3 linked regions of the Homo sapiens genome follow. The protein of the gene in region 3 interacts with the protein of the main gene of each other region in a pairwise test. Each region holds a gene or a part of one and is shown on either strand. Other genes may lie near its edges.

The links. Proteins that work in one complex are often made in the same cells at the same time.
Region 1: the proteins of GALNT15 (region 3) and CISD2 interact in binary tests that used the Homo sapiens proteins (3 or more experiments, as listed by UniProt).
Region 2: the proteins of GALNT15 (region 3) and EVI2B interact in binary tests that used the Homo sapiens proteins (3 or more experiments, as listed by UniProt).

The regions. Positions count from the first base shown.
Region 1 is NC_000004.12:102,865,021-102,871,994, reverse strand, and holds the start of CISD2 (CDGSH iron-sulfur domain-containing protein 2), read right to left. Parts: upstream 3,004-6,974; 5' UTR 2,911-3,003; coding exon 2,808-2,910; intron 1-2,807. Other genes in the region: UBE2D3 (ubiquitin-conjugating enzyme E2 D3), read left to right, coding at 3,251-3,280. UniProt on the Homo sapiens protein: Regulator of autophagy that contributes to antagonize BECN1-mediated cellular autophagy at the endoplasmic reticulum.
Region 2 is NC_000017.11:31,304,052-31,311,076, reverse strand, and holds part of EVI2B (protein EVI2B precursor), read left to right. Parts: intron 1-5,446; 5' UTR 5,447-5,467; coding exon 5,468-6,814; 3' UTR 6,815-7,025. UniProt on the Homo sapiens protein: Required for granulocyte differentiation and functionality of hematopoietic progenitor cells through the control of cell cycle progression and survival of hematopoietic progenitor cells.
Region 3 is NC_000003.12:16,170,484-16,177,691, reverse strand, and holds the start of GALNT15 (polypeptide N-acetylgalactosaminyltransferase 15), read right to left. Parts: upstream 3,013-7,208; 5' UTR 2,541-3,012; coding exon 2,002-2,540; intron 1-2,001. UniProt on the Homo sapiens protein: Catalyzes the initial reaction in O-linked oligosaccharide biosynthesis, the transfer of an N-acetyl-D-galactosamine residue to a serine or threonine residue on the protein receptor.

The sequences.
Region 1 (6,974 bases), on a different chromosome or scaffold from region 3:
TTAAGTTGTTTCTGATAGGTGAGAACTGCCTGTATTTAACTAGTATATGGTCATTAAAGATCTCCATGTGGTTTCTAAGAATGCAGAGTCATCATAAGAGAGTCAATAGCTTTAAAAAACAGCTAGATTTAAATAGGGAAGGAAATGTAGGCAATAATAATGTGAACTGTATTGTTTTTTGCTCTAATTTTCATAGAAGAAAATGGAAATATTTTTTGGTCTCCTAGACATTTTAAACAATTGCTAAAAAGTTGTCTTCCAGGTTTTTATTTTAACAAAAGTGTACATTATGGATTCTACAAGTAACTCATTTAAGAAAGCCAAATGTCATTAACTGTTACAATCTATTCAGAATGGGAGACCGAGAGTGGAAAATAGCCACTGAAATTTTTCTTCTATAGTACTCCAAAATAAACCCTGCAATTGTTTTGTCCAATCCAAAAAGGGCTATCTCATGTTTTTCATAAACCAGTTATTACAAGCATGTTCATGTTTCCTAAATAAACCAGCAATAAAATGAGAACTATTAACTATAGCCACACTGTAATGGGACTTAAGTTAAATGTATGTTATTAAAATACTTCTCAGAATGGTCATTATTTCTGAGAATCAGTCTTCATATTAAATATTTAACAACTTTTAAGAGGAAGTTACTATATATTCTTAAGAGAGAAAAGGTTTTGGTTGAGTTTTCTTAATGTCTTTAATAGGAATTAAATATTTGTTGACACTAGGGATCCTCAAGAAAAGAAAGCATACTTCTAAAATCTAGCCATTAAATCTAGTTTCATACTTTCTAATTTTCTTCAATTATACTTGATTTACAGAGAATCGAAACTAATACAAATGCAGCCACCATCTGGAAAAAACATAGGTAATTCATTGGACATTTTCCTTTCTTGACTGTTAAAAATTCCTCAACAGTTAACTTATGCAAATTAGTAAGAAGGTACAAATGTCAAAATGACAAAAGGGTACAAAAGTCACAATATGATCATACCGTTTTGGCCTGGTATTGCTATTTAAGTGAAGACATCCAAAAGGGAGAAATATGACAACTGGTATTTGCTTACTTGCCAATGAACTATTACATAATGAATTTTAAAAAATAGAAACATTTCTAATTTCCAGTTGTAAGGGAATGAATGGTTAGGCCCATTGTGATGTTAAAACTAAAATAAGTATTTAGTTGTTAGGGAAAAAATGAGGATTATATTAAAATATGTAAAGTACTTAAGTAAAAGAAGTGGGGAAAGCCAAAATTTTATGGAATTGCTGCAATTCTGTCAGAGTAAACTGGTAGGATCAAAAGATCTGATGTTTATAAACACTTGATGTGAAACGTTTTTCATTTTATTTTACTTTTGCATTGCTTCTGATGTTTAATGTTCCTTTTTAATGTTTATTATTGTTACCATGCTTTCTATTCAATTGCATGTTTTCTACTAAAACTCTTAATATTTAAAAAATATTAAAATCTCACAATCCACTCAACAGAGCGTCTGTCTGACCATAATTCAATGAATCTCTAGATTTGGAAGAGAATTTGTCATCTAGTTTATCCCTTCTAAATCTATCGACCACCCACCACCAGAGTCTTTTTGTTTGTTTTTTTCATCTTTGAGAGGGGCTATCACTGAAGCACCACATTTGTTTGGGGAAAGCATTCTTTAATTTAAAAAAAAATCTTCCTTAGACTGAAATTCACCTCCCAATAACCTTCACTAATTTGGTTAATTTGTTATCAGTTCTATATTTTAGTCTACACAAATCTTATTTTTCTTCTACCAGACAGCTGTGCGATTGCTGTATTTTAGGTCAGGTACTACAGATCTTTAGAACGTTCCCGGCGAAGCAACCCTATTTACCTCAGAATTATCTTAATTCATGTTTGCACTCCCTGATAACCTAGGACATAGGAGTTCAATACTTGCTGATTCCTTCACCATCCTACTCGGTCTGAGTTCCGTTTAGAAATATCCCCCTTACAATGAAATGCTCATAACTCAACACAATCTCCCAAGTGTTGACTGCATTCTGGAGATTTTCATCCTTTAGATGTGAAATCCTCATGAGTTGTGTGGGTTAAGTGAGGGTCCTTAAGTATAGAACGTTACATATATTCACTAAATTTCATTTTCTAAGATTTCACTCCTCATACCGGCCTTCGAATACTTTCTTGGGTAAGGTATCTTTCTTCCAACTTAAGTTACCGCAGCGGGCCCCGGGACCGTAGAAACGGAGATGACCTCAAATGCCACCTATGATAGGTCAATTCTAACCTGAGGGAATGGAGGTTATCTCCTAATTTCGTTACTAAATAAAACGGTCATATACGTGTTACGTGTAAGTCTATATTTCTCTCCCACACACTCCCACCCACATGCTGAGGGTACAACCCAGCCGGTAGCTGGGGCTGCCTGTTACATGAGGCCTTAGATAACGACGACTTAGCCCGCTTTAAAATAAACAAGTACGCTACAGAGAGCGATGAGCAGGACAGGAGATGAAAGAGACTGGCCTGTTCCCAACTCAGCACCTTCTCTGCAAAAACCTGGTATCTTGCCACGGAATGACACCGGAGACAACTCCGAGGACAAAAGACCCTGGGGCATCAAGCACCCGGAGACTGCCTCACAGGCGTTCCCCAGGCAGCTGCGTCGGCGCGCGCCCACCTTCCTCTGCGCGCGGGGATCACGTGCCAGGCGCCGAGCTCCGTCCCGCCCCTTGGCCCTAGGATTTTTACGCCTCCTTCCCCCGCTTGGCGAACGTGCAAGGATGGGGACTGGCTGATGGGGGAGGATTACCTGTGAGCCTAGCGAACCCGGTAATGCTTTCAGGGACTGGGAGCCGCTTCAGATATGCAGGGAGCTGCACCTTCACGATACGGGCCACGCTCTCCAGCACCATCCTGGCCAGCGGCGTCCACTCCTCTCCCGAGCCCCCTCCGCTCTGGCCAAGCTGCCGCGCCTGCGCCGGGAGCGGAAGCGGCCGGCGGGCACTGGCGGCCTCGGCCTGGGCGGCGGGCGGGGCGGCGGGCCCTGGGAGGAGAGGTGACCTGCCGGGCGCCGATTGGCGGCGGGCGAGTGACGTACGCTCGCGGCGGACTGCCGAGGCGCGGGAACTGGCGGGTAGCGAGGCCCTCCTCGGAATCTCGTGTGAAGGTGGCCCTCCTCTTGGGCCTTTAACGTCTGTAGATGCTGGAGACCAGCAGAAAGGATACTGTGTGCGATGAGATAAGCATGTGAGAATGCTTTCTAACCGAAAGTGCCTTTCAAAAGTGAGTCTCTTGCTGTCTCTACTTCGTCCCCTCTCGCCCCGCCTCTTCCCCTACAGTTTGGGTGCTGTGGCCCTAGGGTTGCATACTCGCCCATGAGTATCCTCCCCCTACCCAGACCCCAGTGCCTAATTTTACTCCTTCACCCAAAGGCCAGGCTTAAAAAAATAAAAATTAAAATATTTTAACTAAACCAGGAACTGTTTACATCTCTGCCCCTTGGCAACTTAACTGCAGCCCTAGCTCCAAAAACCTCTGGTTTTTGCCACTCAGAGAAGATTCGTAGTAGTCCTTCCTTAGATATTTTCAGTTCCTTTTCCTTCGGGAAAGTGGTAAAAGAATCCAAAGCTGGCCGGGCGCGGTGGCTCACGTCTGTAATCCCAGCACTTAGGGAGGCCGAGGCGGGTGGATCACGAGGTCAGGAGTTCGAGGCCAGCCAGGTCAAGATGGTGAAACCCCGTCTCTACTAAAAATAGAAAAATTAGCCGGGCGCGGTGGCAGGTGCCTGTCCCAGCTACTCGGGAGACTGAGGCAGGAGAATCGCTTGAACCAGGGAGGCGGAGGTTGCAGTGAGCCGAGAATGTGCCACTGCACTCTAGCCTGGGAGACAGAGCAAGACTCCGTCACAAAAAAAAAAAAAAAAAAGAATCTAAAGCCTTATGTATGGTTTTCTTTATGTTACAAGGCTTCTGCTGAAGTCTAGCGCAGGGGGTCCTTATGGCTTCCCTAGGCCACACTGGAAGAAGAATTGTCTTGGGCCACACATAAATACACTAACACTAATGGTAGCTAATGAGCTAAAAAAAAATTTTTTTTCATAAAGTTTTAAGAAAGTTTACAGATTTGCATTGAGTGGCATTCAAAGCCATCCTGTTGGGCAAGCTTGATCTTGAAGGTTTTAATTTTGTTGTTGTTGTTGTTGTTACAAGGTTTCGCTCTATCGCCCAGGCTGTAGTGCAGTGGTCAGATCATAGCTCACCGCAGACTCTAACTCCGGCTTAAGGGATCCTTCTGCCTCAGCCTTCCAAGTAGCTGGGTTTACAGGCGTGTGCTGCCACACCCAACGAATTTTAAAAATTTTTGTGTGTATGTAGATGGAGTCCCATTATATCGCCCAGGCTGGATAGTTGTTTTTATTAATATCTCTAAAAGATTTGAAGGGTAAGAGGAGAAAATTTCACTCCCTTGAAATAACTTTCTTGCTATGACTTTGTTTCATATTTTGGCTGAAGTCAAAATGTCCGAAGTTGTGCACTTGCTGATTGGATAATGTGTGTGATATCTTAATAATATGCCTCATTATTTACAGTTCTACACTTAACAACATATAATAACGAACTGCTAATGGTCCAGTATTTCATTGTGTATGACAGTGTAACAGCCAGTTATAATAAATACTTTCCATTTTTCCCCTTGGTATTTTTATTTTACAGTGAGAAAAGGAAGGAATTTTTTAAAGCAATCTTTCATTCTCTGGACTGTATAAATTTAGTGTTTGTGATTGTCCTTCACTAAAAAAGAATATCAGTAATAGAGTTGACCAAAATCTAGATTAAATAATTTTCTATCATTATAATTGTTCAAAATTGTTAAAGTAAAACTTACAATGGAAATTCTACAAACACGTTTAGATACAGGTTCATGTTTTTGAGCTAGGGCAGTATAGAAGATGGTGTATACAAAGTGATGTTTAAAAGGTTGATGGGATTTCCTTTAGAGAGAGTTTGGAGGTAAACCCTGGAGCTTTTTTATCCTGAAGATGATGGAACTTGAATATCCTTGTCCTCTGGACTATTCTGTTAACTGTTATCTTTAATCTCTGTGGATCTAATGTAGAAGCACCCTTGGGTACAACTAGATACCCTAGTTGAGGTAGGGGTAGGTTGGAAGTGGGGTACATTAGGAAAAGAAAATCTGGAAAAGGCCATTACCTATTCGTTTCTTCTCTTAGAGGATCTGTCATCTTGACAAGGGCAAGACGTGCTGTGTTGAGTTTAATTTTTCCCCTTGGTATTTTAAAGTGAGAAAAGGAAAGAATTTTTTTAAAGCAACTTTACATTCTCTGGACTGTATAAATTTAATGTTTGTGATTGTTGTGCATTAAGAATAAGACCTCCAAGCAGTTTTTCTTTAAAGAATTAAAAAATACATACCTCAATTTAAAGATATAGTAAAATGCTCAAATGCCAAATGTACAGTTCCAGGTAACCACCACCCACATCAATATACAGAATGTTCAATAGAGGCGTTTTTAAAAAGCGACCCTTCCAACCACATCCACCACCATTACTACTATTCTGTATTGCTGTGCATGTTTTTGACCCTCACATATAAGTAATTTTACAGTATGTAATTTTTTATGGTTGGCTTACTTCCTCTTAGCAGTTTATGTGAATAGCTGGTTTGCTATTTTCAAGTAGAAAAAATGTAGTGAATGCAAGTCTATATGGATAAAACTTTTTTGGGAGGCCTTGAAATTCAGAGAAAAGGTGTGGATCATATATTAGGTATTCTGATGCATTACATGAGCTATGCGAATGTGTAATAGGAGATAATTCCTAACTCCACCAATTTAAAAATCCTTATTATCCACTTAAAAGGAATATTTTCTTAAATTCCCTTTACTTAAAATTTAAATCCTGTTTTCATTTATATTTGTATTTCATTTCCACAACCCTGCCTTCTTGGCTGCACATGAAACATGGTCTAAAGATAATATTGCTCTAAATAGATGTAATAGGCTTATCTGACCACCTTATGCGATAGTGTTTTTAGACTCCATCTTTAAAAGACATAAAGAAACTGTGGTCAGAAAACTCAAGATAAATATGTAAATACAGTTAAAGGAGTCATTATTTACTTTCAAGCACTTGAGCTTGGATCACTCATCTTCTGCCTGTCCTAGCTAGGCCCAAGACTTTTATTTCTTTCATGTTTTTTTCCCATTAGGTCATCCAGTGCCCCAAATTCAAATATGATCGTTAAGATATAGCCCAAATCTCTATTTCCAGCCCAGATTTCTTTAGGCTAATCTTAATTCTAGGAGTCTAATTCCAAATGCCTACTAGTCTGCTCTTGACATCTTTGCCCACTGTGCTATTGGTTTGTTCATCAGTTTCACTGGTACATGTTTTCTGGAAAATATTACCTTGTTGGTTACATTGGTTGCTTATCTTTTCCTGTTGCTTATCTTCTCCTAGTGTATGTCTTTTTTTTTTTTTTTTTTGGTTGAGACAGAGTCTCTGTTGCCCAGGCTGGAGTGCAATGGCGCGATCTCAGCTCACTACAACCTCTGCCTCCCAGGTTCAAGTGATCCTCCTGCCTCAGCCTTCCATGTAGCTGGGACTACAGGCGCCCGCCACCACTCCCGGCTAATTTTTGTATTTTTAGTAGAGACGAGGTTTCACCATATTTGCCAGGCTGGTCTTGAACTCCTGACCTCATGATCCACCTGCCTCTGCCTCCCAAAGTGCTGGGATTACAGGCGTGAGCCACCGTGCCTGGCCGTGTATGTCTGTTTTTATACTGAAATTTGGTTTGGGTGTAGTCAAATTTATTCATCTTTTTCTTTACAATTTGTGTTCTGGGAGTCTTGTTTAAGAAATCTTTTTCTACCCCTAAATCACAAAGGTATTCACCTGTGTTTTTGCTAAAAGTTTTAAACTTATATTCTTCATATTAGGGCTTTACTCAACCC
Region 2 (7,025 bases), on a different chromosome or scaffold from region 3:
TAGGGAAGCTGAGGTGTGAGGAGGATCGCTTGAGCCCAGGAGGCAGAGGCTGCAGTGAGCTGAGATTGCACCACTGCACTGCAACCCGGGTGACAGAGTGAGACCCTGTCTCCAAACGGAAAAAAAAAAAAAAAAAGAACATGTCTTATACACGGGGACTCCTGCTTCACTGTAACTGTCTTTAAAATGTTTAAATTTATGTTTTTCTTTTTAAAATATTCTAAATATTCAGCAAAGAAAAAGAACCAAAATCACAGATTTAAACCTCAAAGTGCCAGCCTATAATAATGAGTAAAAACCGGCATATGAGGGCTGACAAATTTGCTTGAGCAGCAGACTAAGGGATTTCTGGAAAACTCTATATAAAACGTACACGGGTACATGGGTTCTTTGGAATAATTGCTAGGTATGCTTCTGGATAGTGTCAGGGAAAAAAAAAGGGAGAGGATGGTAAGGATACTCACAGCAGACAGGAGAGCCTGAAATGAAAGGTAAATGAATTTGAAAGGATGGTTCCTTCTGGTCCTCCATTTTAGAAAGCAAGCTCCTCTTTACTGTCTCCCTGCACTCACAAACACAGGCCAGCCACAACAGAGCAGCATTTTGCCGTTGCTTCTTTCATCTACTTCAATCATCTCCCCCCACCCCCAACTTCATTTTGCCTACTTCAATCATCTACACTGCCTTCTTGCTAATTATATAACCACTGCTTTTTTTTTCACCTGTTTATTAACTTTTCTTCTTTTCTGTATCTTCTCTAGTCAATTGACCTTCCTCTTTTCTGTTCGCTGCTTCCTAGAGTTTTTGTTTTTTCTCTTTTGTGTTATTTTGTATTTCTTTGCATTGCCTTTTATATTATTCTAAATCTCCTTTTTATTCCCCTGCCCAATATTGTTCTTTACCTACAGAAACAATGTTGGTACTTCAGGTACACACCACTTACATATTTTAAAATGTGTATGCTAAATAACCTTCCACACTGGTAGTAACGCTGGCCTCATTACCGCTGGGAAAAAAGTCAGTTTTTTCCACTACCATATTCCCTATTTATTCCTCTTTTAAATCTTTCTTCTCCTTCTCTGGACTACACTGAATTGCCATCATAGAATTCTAATACAGTTTCTAGTACTCTGATGTGGCAGATCCTAGGAGGATAAAAAGCTAACTGAAGAGTGGTAGAAAGTGTTAGGATAGGCAAAAAATGGAATTTGGTTTTAATATTGCCATAACCGTTAACTGACAAGTGAAAATCTCATACATGGAGGGTTCCACCAGCTTACTACTGACAGTAGAGGATAGGAGCCTATCAAAATTGATCTTACAAACTAACCTGGGTTTAAAATTATGTTCCTGTTTGGGCCCTGTCCTTCTCTAATGCCTTTTTCAGCTAACTGAAAAGAGGAACCGTATGGTTTCCTTATTTTAAGCAAAGTCACAAAAGAGGAAACATTTTTGGCTAAAGACAATTCATGGCTTATATTTTCTGATGCTTTGCATAGCATTAAAACAGATTTTTAAAATGAAGTTCTGAAGAGAATAACATTTTCTAAAGAAGTCCCCCCGCCTTTTTTTGTAATCTATAAGAATAATGGGTAGGAACTGCATGGATGATGACCATCCAGAGATTATTCAAATCCCTATATCTATGCCAAAAGTGTTCAAATTTTCCCTTTTAAATCTTTTGCAAAATGGATAAAAAGCAGAATTTATTAACTCAGATTTCACTGCCTCTGCTTATTTTCTGGTAGAAGTACTAGTAAAAAGCAAAAACTAAAATGGAAAGGAATCAAGAAGCCCAATACAGGTTAAATGTTTACTGTGCTCCTAATATATAAGGCATTAACTACAAAGAAATCAAAATATAAAAACATGAGGCAATAAAGGGTAGCAGAAAGAATGTATGCTTTGGAATCAGGTGGCCCTGGGTACAAACTCCCAATCTGTCACTTCGAGTGGTATAACATCAGGCAAACTGCTTAACTCATTTGACACTGTCTCTTTATCTGTAAATAAGGGATCCCTTTACCTTCCTTATAAAGTCATTTGAAGGTTCTGTGAAATAAAGTATGCAAAACTGGGATAGTACAACACATAATATGCTCTAGATAAGTATTTTTCTTTCTCCTTTCTGCCTTCTTCAAGGTTCTTTATAATCTTGTTCAAGGAAGTAGGTATAGGAAAATGTGAAAAGTAAACACAATTACTTAAGAGAATAGAAGTGTGAGTGAGATACATACATGAATTATGTAAGGAACCATAAAAACAATAAATGAGAGCTAGGGGGAATTCAGTAAATGACTGATCTGTTTGGGCTGTAGTCAGTCACAGAGAACTTGGGTTAAGAAGGGGAATTTAAACTGAGGTCTGAAAGATGAGGACAGATTCAGATATGCAGCCAGAAAGGGGAAGAGGCTAGGTCTGGAAGAAAAATAAAAAAAAAAGAACACCCTTGAGAAGGGTAAAAAACAGCATAGAAGTGTCTGTTTAGCAGGGAAAAATCGTGTGTTTAGAAAGTATGCAAGGTGGGAAAGGGATGCATTTGGCTGGATAAGAAGTTTCAGTCATGATACGTGAATCTGGACTGGTTAACTCAAGCCAGAAGGAAGAAAACTCAATTTAGAAGTTTTATCTTAACAGGCCAGGCGTGGTGGCTCATGCCTGTAATCCCAGCATTTTGGGAGGCTGAGGCGGACAGATCACTTGAGGTCAGGAGTTCGAGACCGGTCTGGACAACATGGTGAAACCCTGTCTCTACTAAAAATACAAAAATTAGCCAGGTGTGGTAGTGTATGCCTACTGTAGTCCCAGCTACTCGGGAGGATGAGGCACAAGAATCGCTTGAACCCAGGATGTAGAGGTTGCAGCGAGACAAGATCATGCCACTGCACTCCAGCCTGGGTGACAGAACGACTCTGTCTCCAAAAAAAAAAAGAAAAAGGAAGTTTTATCTTAACAGAAATTAAACCCTCAAGCAAGGCAGTAGTAACCTGATCATGCACACTTTTAAGATTAATTCAGCAGTGTGCAGGAGAGTTCAAAGGAGAACTGTTTTAAAATTCAGGCTTGAATTATTCGTATAGGGAAAAAAATCACATATCTTTTCTTCTACTAAAACAGGGCCATTTATCATCACTGTGTACCAAGTGGTAGAGGAGTAAGCAATGATATGCTGTTTAGATATGCTGAAAAGGTAATTTGTAAAACCTTTATTGCACCTTCCAACAGAACATCAAATCTCTCTAAATATAGGCTTATGAGTCAGAAGAACTATAGTTTCTAATCATGTATACCAATATCTAACACCCTAAGATTTTCTATTCCCTAATGTTAAGAGATAACCAAATAGTTGCCATTGTGTTTGATGATGTGCAAAACAAGTATATTATACCAAAAGTTGCAAATTGTCTCAGTAGAACTCTTCACTTTAGAGGAAAGGCAATTGAGAACAGGAAAGGTTAAGCAACTAGTTCTCATGGTTAGACAGGTAGTTAGATGGGAGAAGTAGAACTGAAACTTAACTCTCCAAGTTTTAGCATCTACCACATCCCAGAAAAAGCCCTATCTGCCAAACTTTCATATGTGCCTTATTTTCCTGTGCCCACATTGTTGCTCTCCCTGGCTGGAAACTTAATTAGTTTTTATAGACTTTTAAAATTCAGTTCAAGCTTTACTTCACTGAAGCCTTTCCAGGCTAGGTTAACTTCTCTGTACATCTCCTGCATACTTTTATGAGAAAGCTTATCAAATTATTGTAATTGGGCCAGGCGTGGTGGCTCACACCTGTAATCCCAGCACTTTGGGAGGCCAAGGCAGGCAGATCACCTGAGGTCAGTTCTCGAGCAGCCTGGCCAACACGGTGAAACCCCGTCTGTGCTAAAAATACAAAAATAGGCCAGGCGTGGTGATGTGTACCTGTAATCCCAGCTACTTGGAGGCTGAGAGAGGAGAATCAGTTGAACCTGGGAAGCGGAATTTGCAGTGAGCCCAGATTGTGCCACTACACTCCAGCCTGGGTGACAGAGTAAGACTGTCTTGAAAAAAAAAAAATTATTGTAATTATTTTTTAGCTTTTTTTCTTTCTTCTTTTTATTTAGAGATGGGATCTTACTATGTGGTCCATGCTGTTCTTGAACTCCTGGCCTCAAACGATCCTCCCATCTTGGCTTCCCAAAGTGCTGGGATTACAGGAATGAGCCACTACGCCTGGCCTTTACTGTTTGCTTCTATCACTAGAATCTGAAACACTTAAAGGCAGTGACTATCTTTTTTTTTTTTTTTTAATCTCCTAAACCTAGAACAGAGCTCCACACAAATGTGGCATTTACCAATAGATGAATGAAAGCAGCAGCAGGACTACTTGACCAACTGGATTGAATTTACTCCACCAGATTCAGAGATCACTCTAGGATTTTAAGCCTAAGACTCTGAGTTGAATGAAATTCTTTAAAAATATGCAATATTAACATAAGGCTACCACGCTACAGAGACACTAAGGATGCTTCAAAGATTACTAATAGACTCTGTGCCTAAGAAACTTAGTGGTACCATTAACAGATACAGAGAAGTTGGGAGAAGAGTCAGTTGTCAGTTGTGAGGGTAAAGATGAACTCCATTTTAAATATGTTGAATTTGCTGATAGTGGGAGATATTTATATCTATATCTATGTCTATCTATCTATATATATAAAATATGGAAAAATCCACCAAGAAGTCACACAAATAGAATTAGGACAAAGAAGATGTAGGCTGGAGGTACAGGTTTAGGAATTGTGGCATAAAGCTGAGAACTAAAATCTTACAGAATCAGGAACAAAGAAAAGTAGGTAAGGGTGAGGACAGAATATCAATTAACCATATTTAGGAGGCAGAAGAAAAAGAGCTAGTGAGAGTAACATGAAAGGAAGACTGATTACAAAAAGCTACTTGAATATTAGTGAAGGAACAGTAGTGTCTAATGTGGTCAAGGAGGGGAGGGGAGAGAAGAAATAAAGAACAATTAGATTAGGTAACAGATGATCACTGGTGTTCTTCAAGGCAGGAGAATCAATATATTTCTAGTAGAAAATGGTGAAAAAAGGTAGAGAACACATGGATCCAGCATATAGAGCCTATGCGTTTTGAGAAGTATGACTAAGTGAAGTACTGAAATATAATGAAGCTAGAGGGGCAGCAGAGCCAAGTACAGAACTTGTATTAATAAAAGAAGAGAGATCACTGCTTATGAGGTCCAAATGCTGTATGATGGGTTAGAGTATATCCAAGAGTTGTTACACCAAACCTACAGTGTATCAAGTCTAAATTAGGAATAATAACTACTAATCAACTACTACTAATTAGGAATAATGTCTACCTACTTTATGCCAGGAATCATAATGAAAAGTCAAATTTTTAACTAGACACCAATGACGCCTAACTGTCTTTCTCTTTCATTATAAACCCGCTATAGATAACGAGGAAATATTCTGAAATGGATCCCAAATATTTCATCTTAATTTTGTTTTGTGGACACCTGAACAATACATTTTTTTCAAAGACAGAGACAATTACAACAGAGAAGCAGTCACAGCCTACCTTATTCACATCATCAATGTCACAGGTATTGGCTAATTCTCAAAACACAACAGGGAATCCTTTGGGTCAACCAACACAATTCAGCGACACTTTTTCTGGACAATCAATATCACCTGCCAAAGTCACTGCTGGACAACCAACACCAGCTGTCTATACCTCTTCTGAAAAACCAGAAGCACATACTTCTGCTGGACAACCACTTGCCTACAACACCAAACAACCAACACCAATAGCCAACACCTCCTCCCAGCAAGCCGTGTTCACCTCTGCCAGACAACTACCATCTGCCCGTACTTCTACCACACAACCACCAAAGTCATTTGTCTATACTTTTACTCAACAATCATCATCTGTCCAGATCCCTTCTAGAAAACAAATAACTGTTCATAATCCATCCACACAACCAACATCAACTGTCAAAAATTCACCTAGGAGTACACCAGGATTTATCTTAGATACTACCAGTAACAAACAAACCCCACAAAAAAACAATTATAATTCAATAGCTGCCATACTAATTGGTGTACTTCTGACTTCTATGTTGGTAGCTATAATCATCATTGTACTTTGGAAATGCTTAAGGAAACCAGTTTTAAATGATCAAAATTGGGCAGGTAGATCTCCATTTGCTGATGGAGAAACCCCTGACATTTGTATGGATAACATCAGAGAAAATGAAATATCCACAAAACGTACATCAATCATTTCACTTACACCCTGGAAACCAAGCAAAAGCACACTTTTAGCAGATGACTTAGAAATTAAGTTGTTTGAATCAAGTGAAAACATTGAAGACTCCAACAACCCCAAAACAGAGAAAATAAAAGATCAAGTAAATGGTACATCAGAAGATAGTGCTGATGGTTCAACAGTTGGAACTGCTGTTTCTTCTTCAGATGATGCAGATCTGCCTCCACCACCTCCCCTTCTGGATTTGGAAGGACAGGAAAGTAACCAATCTGACAAACCCACAATGACAATTGTATCTCCTCTTCCAAATGATTCTACTAGTCTCCCTCCATCTCTGGACTGTCTCAATCAAGACTGTGGAGATCATAAATCTGAGATAATACAATCATTTCCACCGCTTGACTCACTTAACTTGCCCCTGCCACCAGTAGATTTTATGAAAAACCAAGAAGATTCCAACCTTGAGATCCAGTGTCAGGAGTTCTCTATTCCTCCCAACTCTGATCAAGATCTTAATGAATCCCTGCCACCTCCACCTGCAGAACTGTTATAAATATTACAACTTGCTTTTTAGCTGATCTTCCATCCTCAAATGACTCTTTTTTCTTTATATGTTAACATATATAAAATGGCAACTGATAGTCAATTTTGATTTTTATTCAGGAACTATCTGAAATCTGCTCAGAGCCTATGTGCATAGATGAAACTTTTTTTTAAAAAAAGTTATTTAACAGTAATCTATTTACTAATTATAGTACCTATCT
Region 3 (7,208 bases):
TGAACAATGCATGTGGCATCACCCCAATACACAATACATATATGAACCATGCACATAATACATGCACATTAACACACATGCACACAAGATGACACATTGCACAATGCATAGCTGTGCATATCATATCACATACACAAAGTAACATGCACCAAGCATATAGGCACCACATAACGCAGTACCTGCATGTACTACACATACATGCACGACATCCATTTAATACACATAATGCAATGCACACACAACACAGAGAATATATACAACACACATGCACGAACATACATATACCATGACCCACAAATATGCATATTCACCACACATTTGCACTATGCAAACACACAGTCACACACACAGACCACTTTGGTAGCCACAGACCCTCTCGTTTCAGGCAATATTATTTCTTATCGGCAAAAAGAGGATGCTCACTCTTGCTCCAGGCCAGTGAAAAATAGTGTCAAAAAATTTGAAAACTATGTTTGTTCATTCAGCAATCACTTCTTTACTGCATGTTGGGCTTTGGGATGTACAATACAAACTCAGTCCTGACCTTCTAAGGGGCTCACAGCATAGCAGGGAAAGCAGGCATTCGACTGATAAATACATCAATAATCATTTGGCTTTAGTTTTGTAAGTGCTGTGAGTTAAAACTCCAGGGTGCAAGGAGGGCACAAAACTAGAATGGGGTGGGAATTTCCTGAAAATAGCTTTTAAAGGTAAGGCTTGAAAACAGTGTAGCGGGTTTGAAATGGAAGTAGGGTGCGGTGAGTGAGGCACCCGGGGCACACAATTTAAGGAGATGTTCACTCCCGGCTGCTGACCCTGCAATTGCACACCCTCGAGTGTGAGTGGCTGAGCAGCCAGGCTGAGGGGAACTAGATCAGGGATCCGAAGAGTGTGTGGCCCTGCTTCCAACTGCTGCCCTGCACAAATGTTTGCTTTCCAGGAAACTCTCCAGGCTCTGGGAGGAGCAATGGCCTATAGGAAAAGGGACCTAAATCACCAAACTAAAACTAACAAGCTGCCTTGCTCCCTGGATGCTGGTAACCAAGGCTCCCTCCTCAGTGGTCAGCCATGGTGACAGTAAGGGAGCAGGGGGTGTGGAGGATGGGCCAGCATCTCCCTGGGCACAGCTCTGCCCATCACCTACACTTCTCAGCTTACCTCCTGGGGCTGGGGCTGCCCTGGCAGGGTAAATTGCAGTCAGCACAGTATTCTGGCTCTCAGGCACTGGACCTGTTTCCTTAGTCTAGTGGCCCAAGGCAGGTGGCATGGAGTGGTGGGTCAGGCAGACTGGAGCTCACATGCCTGCATTCAAATCCTGACTTTGTTACCTACTAGCAGCGTGACTGGGAAAGCAACTTCACCTTGTTTTCATACCTATAGAATAAGCATGATGATACTACTAGCACCCATCTTGCAGAGCTGTGAGGACTTTCCAGGACTTTATGAGTTAATACATTAAAAGCTTGTAAAGTAAATCCAGACGCATGGGAAGAGCCCCCTAAATGTAAACTGCAATTGTTATTTTGATCCAAACTAAAAGCAAACACTAACAATAACCCTAAAATCAAAATGTAGTGGAGTCAGAGTGTTAGAACTGGCAAATGTCTGCTCTAACCTCCCTTCTGTGTTATAGAAATAAAGCCATTTGACCTAAAGACAGAAGAACTAGAACCCAGGACGGAGAAGAGAATGAACAAGCAAGAGTCCTCACTTTCTGCTTTCTAGGACAATGATTCTCACCTGAAGGGCTTGTTCATACAGACCACTGGACCCCACCCAGAGTTTCTTGTTTGGCAGGTCTGGGATGGGGTCTGAGAATCTGCATTTCTGAGAACCCACCAGTGCCCAGGGGCTGCTGACGCTGCTGGCCCAGGTACTGCATCTTGAAAAGCACTTGCTCTAAGTCAGGAGAGGCAGGCTACGGAAAGTTTGCATTCCCGAGTTTGCTACCACCCGATCATGCCCTGGGATCAGGGAAGGGAAAACAAGGGCCTTACTTACAGTGGGTGCCGCACCTCGGGCAGAGCCCTCTGGAGGGGGATGCGGGCACTGAGTGCCTCCTGGAGGCCACGTGGGTCCAGGCTGAACGGGGTCAACTCCTCTTCTTCAGACACCTCCCCGTCCTCATCAGCCCCCCAGTCCCTCTTTGGGGCTTCCTTATCCTGCCTCCTTGGCTGCTTGATGAGGCGGTAGCTCCCACCTCTCCTGCCCTGGCTCTGGTTCCTTCTGGCCTGGGGTAAGGCCACGGCCACCAGCAGCTGATCCTCCCGCAGTGAGATAAAGGGTGGCAGGCCCTCCAGAGGGCTGTACTCTTCACCCTCATCCTCAGCTTCCAGTACCCAATCCTGGGATTCCCCAAAGTCCAGGCGGTACCTGGCTTCAGGGCTGTGCTTGCTGGCTTGGGCTGTGACAGTCTGGTGCAGGGTGTGGTGGGGAGGGTGCAACATCGCCACCATCATCAGGACGCATCCCAGCATCAGGAGCAGCAGGAGGAACTGGAGTCTGCATGGTCTGTGCCTGTATCGCTTCCTTAGGAGCATGTTGCTAGAACTTGCCAAATGCAACAGGTCATGTTCAAGTTAGCTTTCTCCCGCTCCAGGCTCCTTCAAGCTTGCAGCAGAACCTGGGTTGCTTGTTCCACCTGGAAGTTTTTCTGCCAGTCACTTAACCTGGTCCTGACATTTGCCAACAGCGTGTGCAAGACCTGCTTCCACTTACAATCAGAAAACCACAGGACCCAAGTTTCACCCCAAGTCCTCTCTGAGTGGATTTCTTTAATTGCCTTCTGAAAGCCCATTCACAGGGACTTCAAATTGAATTGCTTCCCTCCCTTTACCCCGGTTTTCTCCTTGGGAAAAAAATAATGATTCCATTCTGCTCAGGTGTTTCTTTCCCCCTTTGTATAAATAGGTTGCTATGAGGTGTCTGGGATGAGCTGGTGGGTTCTCAGTCAAGCAGGGCTGACAGCCGTCCCTCTTTGGACGCTTCCAGTCAGGTCAGATCAACAGATGTAAAGCCGGCAGGCAGTGCCTGGTTTCCTTTCACACATAGCTCCACTCAGCCGAGAGCCCTCTGCCAGACACAACCCAGAGCCAAGCGTGCGCGTCACTCCTGGTCCTAATGCCCTCACTGTTCCCAGGCTTTGCACAACTCGGTGTGGTCACTGCTAGAGCCAAATCAAAACAGGAATATCCCAAGAGTTCAGAAGGAAAGACTAATACCCTCTGATTCAGAAAGGCTGTGTGTGTGGCATAGCTGCAAGGAGCTGCAGCTGTCTGTTTGCAACCTCAGCCTCCCATGGGGGATCAGGCAAACTAGGTTGGACTCTCCTTCCCTTCCTGGGGACCACTGTCCCTGGCCTCCTGAAAATGAGGGAGCTAAGGGAGATGATCTTGCAAGTCCCTTCTTCTCCCACAAGAGCAGCTGAATGCCTGCTCTGCCCTGGCCACCAAGGGGGACGCTGGAAGAGGAGTGGCATGCTCTTTCCCTCATAAAGCTTCCTTCATTTAACCAACACATAATTAATGAACACATGCTATGTGCCAAAATTGTTCTGGGAACTGGAAGTAGAGCAATGAATAACACAGACAAAAATGTGTGTCTCATGGAGCTTGCATTCTAGTGACAGATACAATTAAAACTATCCACTGGGTCAGATAGTGATGAGGATGAAGGCAAAAAAGCAGAGCAGGGATGGGGCTGGGGAGCATGGGCTGGGCTTGGAAATGGACATTGAGTGGTGGAGAAAGGTTTCATGGAAGAGTTACCATTTGTGTAAAGGAGAGGGCTGCACAGCTATTTGAGGTTGAGTGTTCGGGGCAGACAGAATGATAAATGTGAAGGTTCCAAGGCAAGAGTATGCTGGCATGTCTGAGGAACAGCCGGCATGGCTGAAGCAAAGAGAGCAGGGTGGAGCCTGATGGGAAGTGGAATAAGAGAGGCAAGGGGGCGGGGGGCAGGAGGACCATGCAGGACACCCCCTGGTTGCATTGAAGGAACTTTGGCTTTTCCTCTGAGTGAGAGGGGAGCCCTTAGAGGAGAGACACAATCTGACTTGGGTTTTAACTGGATCATTCTGGCTGCTGGGTTGAGACTAATCAGTGGGGGGCAAAAAGCAGGAGCAGGGAGACCAACCAAGAGGTTCTTGGCTTGCACTAAGTGGCATCGGTGGTGACAGGGGTCAGCTTGTGGATATACTTTAAGGAAGAACCTATAGGATTTGCTGATGAATTAATGACTAATGTGAGAGGAAGAGAAGAGTCAAGATGAGTTCAAATTTTTGTTCTGAGTAGTTGGAAGAATAGACTTGCCATTAACCAAGATGGGGAAGGAGAGAAGGTGGAAGGAGATGAATGCATGCCAGTGGCTTGATTTGGAACATGTGACATTCGAGATGTCCTCTAGACAGCTAAGAGGAGATGAAGTGAAGGCAGCAGTTGTAGGATAGCTGAAGGTCAGGGGGAGGTCTGGCCTGCATATACAAAGCTGGACTCCAGCAGCACTCAGATAGTGTTTGAAGCCGTGAGACCTGAGATCACTGAGGGAGTGAGGTAGGTAGAAGGGAGAAGAGAATCCAGCATGCTCAGTTTTCAGGCTTCTGGCTTGAACAGGTTGAAGGATAGCTGACCATCACCATGAGCAGTGTTTCTTCTGATGGCTGTAAAGCAGCCATGCTGTCTGCAACCAAGAGTGGAGGGGGGAAAACTGCCATTGGGGAAGTCCTGCAATGAACTTGCTCATTGTTTTTGTCTTTATTTTGATCTTAGAATGTCAGCTAAAATGTTTGTGGAAAAAAATGTTTTACCTTTTGACTCAGTTGTTTCTTCCAGTGTGTGTGGTGTGTCTGTGCACACTCACGTGCACAAGCATGTATACACGTGTGTTTTCATGAAGTCAGAGGTGAAATAGTGGGTTATGTGTGGTTGTTCTCCTGGAATCCCATTGTAATGCCCCAGTGGACAGTGCTTAGCAATTTCTGGATTGAATTGTGTCTTCCAAATCTCAAATCACGGTGTATTGCCAGGTGGGAATACTGTGTCATTTCCAAATTCAAGAGGCAGACACCCTGGGAGATGTAGTTCAGAATATCTGGGGACATTTTGAGGTTAATGAGGATGAAGGATTAGAAGGTTCCAAATCCAGGAGGCCTTCAGAAAACTGAGTGTGCAGAGTCACCATCTTCCACTCATCTCTAGCAACGCTGTGCTTGAACTTACCAAGAACAGCCCACCCCAGGGCTGTCACCCTGGCCAGCCCACTGCTTGAGCACTCTTTCCCCAGAAAGTCATCCATATGGCTCATTTCTTCATTTTTGTGTTCCCCAGAAAGTCATCCATGTGGCTCATTTCTTCATTTTTGTGTTCACTCCAATGTCACCTATTTAGTGAAGGCTTCGTGGACCCCCCATTCTACATTGAAACCCCTCATCAACATGGGGCTTTCTTTGAGAATCTCTGTGGCTCTTCTCAACACCTGGAAAATTAAAATACTAAGGTGTTTATTGTCTGTTTCTCCACCCACTCCCATAAAACATAAGCTCCACAAGGGTAGGGCTTTTGTTTGCTTGTTCACTGCTGTTTTTCCAGAGTACACAAAGCACATTTTTCCACTCCCCAGGCCTTTGCTGCTGTCCCTGACAGCTTTGCTGCCAGTTCTTCCCATCCCCCACCATCACTTGGCACATGAGGCCCAGACCTTGCTCCCTTCTCCTCTCTTTCTCACCCTTGCTCCTATCATGGGTTGAATCGTGTCCTCCAAAATTACACTGAAGCCCTGCCTCTGCTGGGGAACCTGTGAAGGGGGCCTTGACAGCAAATAGGATCTTTGTAGATTATCAGGTTAAAAGGAGGTTGTTAGGGTGGGCCCTAATCTAATATGACTGGTATTGTTACAAAAAGGGGACAATTGGGCAGAGACAGGCATACACAGAGAACATCATGTGAAGAAGAGGGCAGACCTGGGTGACACATCTAAAAGCCAAGGAATATCAAAGATGGCCAGGAAATCACTGATAGCTAGGAGAGACATGAAACAGACTGTCCTTCACAGTCCTAAGAAAGAACCAGCACTGCCAACACCTTGATCATGGACTTCTTGTTGCTACAACTGTGAGATCATACATTTCTGTTATTTAAGCCACCCACTTGTGGGACTTTGTTATGGCAGCCGCAGGAAACGGATACAGTTCCTCTTGCCCTCCCCACCCTCCCACCCTCCTCTGCCTTCTCTCAACTCTTGCTCTAGCTCTGTCATTTCCATCTCTCCTTCTCCCATTCCATCTCCTTCCTCAACCTCTAGTGAGGTTAGGCATCACACTAACCTCCTCAGCCCATGGCCTTCCCATGACAGAGACAGCCCATGAAAAAAGGCTCCCAAAAGAACTGGGGCTGGGTGACTCTGGCCTGGGATTCTTGGCTCCAGTTCAAGATAAACTAGATCTGGTGAAGTCCCAGATGCAGGCCGTGGGTCTCTCCTGGGACTCAGAGCATTGTTGATCTAACCTCCAGGCTGTCTCATTGCTCAGAGAGGTGAGATGATCAACACCCCAATTAGACCGCCACTGGGGTTTCTGTATGTTTCTCTCTTTAGCTTTTCATCTGTCTGTTTTCTCATAAGCCATGGCAGCTTTGGTGTTAACAATTCTGCTGTTTTCCTAGAAAAAAATGAAATTTTTCTGTTCAGATGGATGGCAGGTTAAAGTGCCAGAACAAATCAGAGACTGAGAGTATTCATGAAAGGAACAGTAGACATCAGCTAGTGAAAAACAAAAAATTCTGCAAAGCAATAGCAGACCTGGCCCAAGCAATTCAAGAAGATGTCATCAACGGCCCAGTCGCTGTTCTTCCCATCTCAAGCTGAGGTGAAAAGAGCAAGAATAAGGGAAGCTAGAGAGGCAATTCCCCAAATAACTTAACCCCAGGCATTTTTTTGTTTGACTTGGTGCTATGGTTTGAATGTTTGTTCCTCCAAACTTCATGTCGAAATTTAATTCCCAGTGTTAGAGGTGGGGCCTAATGGGAGGTGTCTGGGTCATGAGGGTGGATCCTTCATGAATAGGTGAATTTCCTGCTTGGAGCAGAGGGAGACCGGGTGAATGAATTCTCACTCTGTTGGTTCCTGTGACATCTGGTTGTTAAAAGGAGGCTGGCATCGCCCCCATTTCTTGCTTAATCCCTTTCTCGCCATGTAATCCCTGCAGGTGCAGGTTC